2 linked regions of the Homo sapiens genome follow. The protein of the gene in region 2 purifies or fractionates together with the protein of the main gene of each other region. This does not show direct contact. Each region holds a gene or a part of one and is shown on either strand. Other genes may lie near its edges.

Region 1 (3,500 bases), on a different chromosome or scaffold from region 2:
CTTGCACCCTGCAGAGATCCAGAAGCTGGTGCTGGAGGGCCGTGTGGGCGAGGCCATCGAGACCACCCAGCGCTTCTACCCAGGGCTGCTGGAGCACAACCCCAACCTCCTCTTCATGCTCAAGTAAGTCTTGGGCACCCCCAGCTCCCCCAGAGTCCAGCCCCTCTCAGCTGGTGGTGGGAACGTCAACCTGGACCACAACCAGAGCATTATTGCTCCGCTCCCTCCACAGGTGCCGGCAGTTTGTGGAGATGGTGAATGGGACGGACAGTGAGGTCCGAAGTTTGAGCTCCCGAAGCCCCAAGTCCCAGGACAGCTACCCTGGCTCCCCCAGCCTCAGTCCCCGACATGGCCCCAGTAGTTCCCACATGCACAACACAGGTCAGCCACTCTCCAGAGGGCTCTGGGAAGAACTGGTGTGGAGGAGAGAGGCCACTCCACATACCCTTTCCTGGGCTGGGCTCAGGGCTCACTGCTGGATTTGGGAGAAGGGAAATGGGACCACTGTGGTTGTTCTTGGGGCTTCATTTCATGGGAAGCTGCCCCTCCTCTTCTGACTGTCACCCTGGCTTCTAGGAGCAGACAGTCCCAGCTGTAGCAATGGCGTCGCGTCCACCAAGAGCAAACAGAACCACAGTAAATACCCTGCACCCAGCTCCTCATCCTCGTCCTCCTCCTCCTCCTCGTCCTCTTCCCCATCCTCCGTCAATTACTCCGAGTCCAACTCAACAGACTCCACCAAGTCCCAGCACCACAGCAGTACCAGTAACCAGGAGACCAGGTGCCTGCCTTGCTCTGCTTCCTCCTCTGCCTTCTGCCTTATGCCAGCTGGGCCCATTGCAGTCTGTCCTTTGAGCGCCCTGCCCTTCACCCCCAGCCTCCATCTCAGGTCTGTGCCTGGAGTCCTAATTTTTGGCCCACCGGGCCAGACATCAGCTCTGGCTTCTGGCCCTCCCCACGATTTAGCTGCACTTTCTTTGGCCTTGGCTTTCTCCAGAGGCTCCAATGATGCCAGGCTGAGGATGTGGTCTCCTCCAAAGAGGCCGGGCCTGTGAGAACCCTCAGGGTCCATCATGAGGGAGCTTTCCCTGGCTCTGGCTTGTAGACAGCCAGGTTGGGCAGGCAGGGGAAGCTAAGCCGCAGGCTAGAGCTCTAGGTGGCTCTCAGCATCCCCAGGTACACCTCAAGGCTGACCTGAGTTTGGCTTCCAACCAAGGCCACAGAGCTGCCCATGGGGGCCATGGGGCCCAGTCATTAGGTTGGGGGATATGTAGAAGAGGTGTGTGAACTCAGAGGAGGGCCAGGGAGGGGAGAATCACAGAGGCAGCACTGGGGCAAGGGTGGGAATCAGGTGACAGGCCTCTGAGGATAGCTGGTGTCACAGTAGGGGCCAAGTGCTGAAGACTTGGAAGCCTGAGCTGTCCTTTCATGTTCCTGGGGGTCCTCGGTTCACCCACAGCAACCCATGGCTACAGCTTGAAAGGAGGCCCAACCAGGCTGCTCCAACCACACCCCCTGGGCCAACTCCCACCTCAACCCCTCCCCACAGCGACAGTGAGATGGAGATGGAGGCAGAGCACTACCCCAACGGTGTGCTAGGAAGCATGTCCACACGCATTGTTAATGGTGCCTACAAGCATGAGGACCTGCAGACGGATGAGTCCAGCATGGGTGAGAGCCACGGCCCGGTGTGCTATTCTTTGAGGGCAGTGTGCAGTCTGGGTGCCCTCTTCCCCTGGGAGGGGCTGGGGTAGGCAGGCTTTGGCATCTTGAGAAGCTTCAGCCAGACCTGGTCCACAGCCTCCTTAGCCGATTGTGAATGGGTCCTTGAGGTGGCTCCAAATGTACGAAGGCCCTGGCCTGTGCCAAGACCACCTATGTTTGAGGCTGGAGGGTGTTCGAGAGCATGGGCACCCTAATGAGCACCCTGCGTCTGTGCAGGCTGGGAAGAGGGACAACTTCCAAGTCCTCCCTAAATCCTAGACTGTGCGCCAGGTGAATGAAGAGAAGAACGCCTTGACTGTAGCTGCCTCACCTGTTCCTCCCAGCCCTGCCTGCCTCTGGCAGAAGCTGCAGCCCACCCGGGGTCCTTCCTGCCCCACCCTAGTCCTGCCCTTCCCTCTTCACCCCTCCTAACACGTTCTCCACTGGGTTCTGGATGCAGATGACAGGCATCCTCGGCGGCAGCTCTGCGGGGGCAACCAGGCTGCCACAGAAAGGATCATTCTGTTTGGCCGCGAGTTGCAGGCATTGAGTGAGCAGTTGGGCCGGGAGTACGGCAAGAATTTGGCCCACACAGAGATGCTGCAGGTACAGGATGAGCCGGGCCTCATGCAGAGCAGGCCCCATTTGGTGTTGGGGGCAGGGTGGCTCTGGGAGAGTCCAGGGGGCAGCAGGAAAGAGTGGGCTCCAGCCAGGTCTGCAGAGGGAAGTGGGGCATCTGGGCCCACTGGACATGTGCCCTCCACACCTAGGCTCTGGGGAGAGTACAGCCCTGCCCGACCCTACACCCCACATTCCAGGCTGGGCATCATGCAGGGCCCTGTCTCCCTCTGGAGCCACGGGTAGCAGGGTGAGCTATGGTGTGTGCCACAGTCCTCTCAAGAATGCCCTGTCCTGTAGGATGCCTTCAGCCTGCTGGCATACTCAGACCCCTGGAGCTGCCCAGTTGGCCAGCAGCTTGACCCCATCCAGAGGGAACCTGTGTGTGCTGCCCTCAACAGCGCCATTTTAGGTGAGTGAATCTATTTATTATTATTATTAGAGACAGAGTCTGCTCTGTAGCCCAAGCTGGAGTGCAGTGGCACAATCTTGGCTCACAGCAATCTCCACCTCTGCCTCCTGGGTTTAAGCAATTTTCGTGCCTCAGCCTCCTGAGTAGCTGGGACTAAGGTGCGTGCCACCACGCCTGGCTAGTTGTTGTATTTTTAGTAGAGACGGGTTTTGCCATGTTGGCCAGGTTGGTCTCGAACTCCTGGCCTCAGGTGATCTGCCCGCCTTAGCCTCCCAAAGTGCTGGGATTACAGGTGTGAGCCACCATGCCTGGCCTAGGTGAGTGGATCTAACAAAAACAGAAGCTAGCCCATAGCTACCTGGGTGGTTCCCAACCCCCACCCCAATTGGCCCCAGAAAGAGCTGATGTTTATCCACACTGGGGCAGCAAGCTCTGTACAGGCCCTCTCTGGTGACTCATAGGACTCCTGGGCTCCCATGGTTGAACCTAAACCTTGACCTCTGTCTGCCCAGCTGAGTTCATGATGGGTCCTAGGCCATGGCAGTAGGCCCAGGCCAGCCCAGCGCTCTACATGGGGCTAAGGTCCTCAGGTTCCTGGCATGACTTCAGGGCCATGGCCTGGTGGCTGGGACACACTTACACAGAGGTACTGAACACTCTGTTCCAAGAGAATCTGTCCACTGCCCCCTCCTTCCACCCCCAAGGGAACTTTGACCTGGGCCCAAGCCCTGGGCAGGCCAGTGACCAGGCCTTGTCTTTCCTCCAC
Region 2 (4,110 bases):
GGCATCAGAGTGGGCCACGTGACCCTTACCCTGGCAGGACAGGGCAGGGGGTTACTGTTGGCCCAAGCCAAGGGAGTTCAGAGGCCAGGCATTCAGGAAGCCAGAGTCATTGGCACAGGTGGGCAGAAGATGCCAGAGGGGCCCTGTATTAGTCAGGGTTCTTTTAAAGGGACAGAACTAATAGGATATATATGGTTGTGTATATATATAAAGTTAATACTTAATAAACTCCCCTTTATATATATATAAAATATATATATAAATTATATATATATTAATTATATATATAATATATATATAAATTATATATATATTAATTATATATATAATATATATATAAATTATATATATATTAATTATATATAATATATATATAAATTATATATATATTAATTATATATAATATATATATAAATTATATATATATTAATTATATATATAATATATATATAAATTATATATATATTAATTATATATATATAAAATATATATAATTTATATATATAAAATATATATAATTTATATATATAAATTATATATAAAATATATATAATTTATATATATAAATTATATATAAAATATATATAATTTATATATAAAAATTATATATAAATTATATATATAAAATATATATATAAATTGTATATATATAAAATATACATATAAATTATATATATATAAAATATACATAAATTATATATATAAATAATATGTATATAAAAGGGAGTTTATTAAGTATTAACTTACATGATCACAAGGGCCCACAACAGGCTGTCTGCCAAACTGAGGAGCAAGGGGAGCCAGTCTGAGAGTCCCAAAACTGAAGAACTTGGAGTCTGATGTTCGAGGGCAGGAGGCATCTAGCATGGGAGACAGATGTAGACTAGGAGGCTAGGACCATCTCTCCTTTTCACGTTTTTCTGCCTGCTTTATATTCGCTGGCAGCTGATTAGATTGTGCCCACCAGATTAAAGGTGGATCTGCCTTCCCCAGCCCACTGACTCAAATGTTAATCTCTTTTGGAAACACCCTCACAGACACACCCAGGATCAATACTTGGTGTCCTTCGATCAAATCAAGTTGACACTCAGTATTAACCATTGCAGGCCCCTGACTCTGAGGGCACAGCAGGAGGCATTTGCTTGCTCTCTGTGCCCCTGTGAGAGCTGTTTAGACCAAAGGCCGGAGGCTGGCAAGTGGGAGATGTCCTCACTGGGACAAGACACAGGTGCTGAATTACATCACAAAGCGTAACCTCCCTGCAGGGCGTGGACTCAGAGGGGCAAGAGAGACCGCAGACCAGGACCCACAGAGACCCTTGACTGGGCCACAGGCATGAACTAAGAGTGCTGAAGACCTAGGAGAACCACTGGTCAGGTCAGCTCCCAGCTCCACAGGGAGTAAGAAGGAGCTGCAGGCACAGCAGGCTGAAAGTCCACCAAGGGCTGAGGCCACAAGGCCTCTGGGGCAGCCACAGTTTTCATGATCACATCATACAGGACTGAGAAGCAGATAACAAGAGTGACGCTCACAGGGGTAGGCATAGACACACTGGGGCCGAAGGGGAGAGGAACTCTCCCTAGACACACAGATTGCTCTCAGGGTAAGGAGGGGAGGCTGGTAGAGAGACTCCTTAACTGGCATTCCTGGGTGGGTTTCCATGGAGAAAGAGAGGACAAACCCCAAAGAGTGACCCTAATGGCCTGTCTTGAATCCAGCTGGGCTGACGCTAACAGGAGGCAGTGTGTGGCTCGAAGATTCTTGAACCCACAGCAGCAGCTGCGGCCACCCCATCCTGCCCACAGCTCCAGCCCTGAGACGACGAGGAGGAGAGTCGACTTTGCCTCTTGCCCAAGGGACCATGCCCAGGTGCCGGTGGCTCTCCCTGATCCTCCTCACCATTCCCCTGGCCCTGGTGGCCAGGAAAGACCCAAAAAAGAATGAGACAGGGGTGCTGAGGAAATTAAAACCCGTCAATGCCTCAAATGCCAACGTGAAGCAGTGTCTGTGGTTTGCCATGCAAGAATACAACAAAGAGAGCGAGGACAAGTATGTCTTCCTGGTGGTCAAGACACTGCAAGCCCAGCTTCAGGTAAAGGTGTCTTTCCATATAGGTGGACATTTGCATATGGTGGCACAGTTGAAGCCAGACTGAAAGAGTGGGCATATAAGAAAAATATCACTATGCAAAAATCCTAAATATGTGAATGCTTAAGAGCCTAGACACTTCCACAGCATCAATAAGGCAGTGAACACACAGAGCACTTTCTACAAACGCTTGCGCTTTTGTTCTAAGTCCTTCGCATAGATTAACTCATTTAAACCCCAAACTGCAAATCAAATGTTCATGTATTTGCTAAGGTTGGGAGACAGATAGAATGCTAGCCATGAGAAAAGATCTGATAAAGGTGAGTCCAGGTGAACCTGGACCCAACTAGCAGACACTCCTTCATCTCCTGCTGTAATCCTTTAATGCCAGATGAAAACAGATTTAAATGGACATCACAAGTAGCCTTGATTGCATTCAGTCACTAATGAGTTCAACAAATACTAATGTCCTGCTATAAACCTACTGCTGTTCTACTCACTAAAGACTCAGCAGAGAACAAGACAGGCAAACTCATGCCTGCATGGGTCCTCATGGACTGTGTGCTGAGCTGGTGGGAGGGGCTTTGGGTGGGGAAACCCCAGAGGATGGGAGGTTTCACAGGAATCTGAGGGACTGGGGCCTAATGTGGCTGAGGGGGCTGTCCCCTGGTCAGGCCTGTGTGAACCTGAGCATCTCAGGCCCAGGAGAGCTGATGGTTCTGAAGAGCCCACCTTTCACCTCTCAGTCCTCACTGAGCATGCAGCATGCCCTGGGCTTGGGGACAGGAAATGGAATGAGAAGGCCTTGCTTTCAAGGAGGTGACAAACTGGAGAGGAGTCTTTACTCAAGTGTCCAGCTCCAGGAGCCTATGGAGTCCTGACTGATCTTGTTGTACACAGGGCTCCAGGCAGTGGGCATCTTAGCCTTCCGCTAAAGCTCTGTCTGGGGGTGAGGGAGGAAGGAAAGAGGAAAGGACGAGAGTAAGAGTAATTTTTTTTTTTTGTCAAAACTTTAAAAAAGTACAACTCTTTTGAATAAAATTGCATAATTGCTAACCAACAGGTCACAAATCTTCTGGAATACCTTATTGATGTAGAAATTGCCCGCAGCGATTGCAGAAAGCCTTTAAGCACTAATGAAATCTGCGCCATTCAAGAAAACTCCAAGCTGAAAAGGGTAGGTGATGAACCACTCATCTGTGACGGCCTAGGCAGCTCTGAACCCAAGAGAGAAAGCTGAGGCACGCAGACCTTCTCTTTGAGGTCTGGGTGGCTCCCAGTGTTTAGCCCCAGATAGCCAACCCTGTGGCCTTTATAGCAGAAGATCCAGGGCCACGGAACGTGGTGGAACCCTCTGAGCTTCTTTCTCATCCTTCATCCTGCAGAAAGGATGTTGTCAAGACCACTCTTATCTCAAGGGCTCCATTGACTTCTGGCCTTTTGATGCAGGCACACTGGACAACACATAATCACCAAAAGCCTGTCCTCTTGGGTCCAGACAAGCCACCCACTATTGCTGGGCCCATGGTCACTCATCCCCATACAGACACAAAAGGAACTTCATTCATTCACTCATCCACTCATAGAAAATTACTGAGCACCAGGTGCTACGTGCTTTGCACCAGGTCTATTCTGGGTGCTGGAGATTAAGCAATGACTAAGCCAGAGGGTGGCCCCACCCTCCTGGGTTTACAGTTGATTTTTGCTGGGGTCAGTCCAGGTTTCCAGGAAGGTTGGGGCAAACCCACAGACTCCCAACAAAAGGAGGACTTGGCCCAGGGGCTTTTGGCTTCAAGCCTGTATTTTTTATCTCAGAGCAGCTCATAGGCCAGTACTTGGTCCCAGACAGATGAAGGCCTGAGCATTCTGCAGGTTTGCCCAACAGGTGCATCACTGTCCCTGTCTTTACATTGGTGGTTCTCCAATGTGAGCAGGCATCACAATCACTTGGAGGTATTGACAAACCCTGATGACCGGGTTCCACCGGCAGAGTTTCCAATTCAGGAAATGGGATCTAAGAAT

Evidence for each region.
Region 1: the proteins of CST8 (region 2) and RANBP10 purify together in Homo sapiens (affinity purification with mass spectrometry; one large-scale study listed by BioGRID and IntAct). This does not show direct contact.

What each region holds. Positions count from the first base shown.
Region 1 is NC_000016.10:67,726,561-67,730,060, reverse strand, and holds part of RANBP10 (ran-binding protein 10), read left to right. Parts: intron 1-14; coding exon 15-123; intron 124-232; coding exon 233-381; intron 382-576; coding exon 577-781; intron 782-1,459; coding exon of another isoform or gene 1,460-1,549; coding exon 1,550-1,671; intron 1,672-2,164; coding exon 2,165-2,310; intron 2,311-2,622; coding exon 2,623-2,734; intron 2,735-3,500. UniProt on the Homo sapiens protein: May act as an adapter protein to couple membrane receptors to intracellular signaling pathways.
Region 2 is NC_000020.11:23,489,807-23,493,916, forward strand, and holds the start of CST8 (cystatin-8 precursor), read left to right. Parts: upstream 1-1,310; 5' UTR 1,311-1,536; exon of another isoform or gene 1,537-1,603; intron 1,604-1,718; 5' UTR 1,719-1,861; coding exon 1,862-2,092; intron 2,093-3,151; coding exon 3,152-3,265; intron 3,266-4,110. UniProt on the Homo sapiens protein: Performs a specialized role during sperm development and maturation.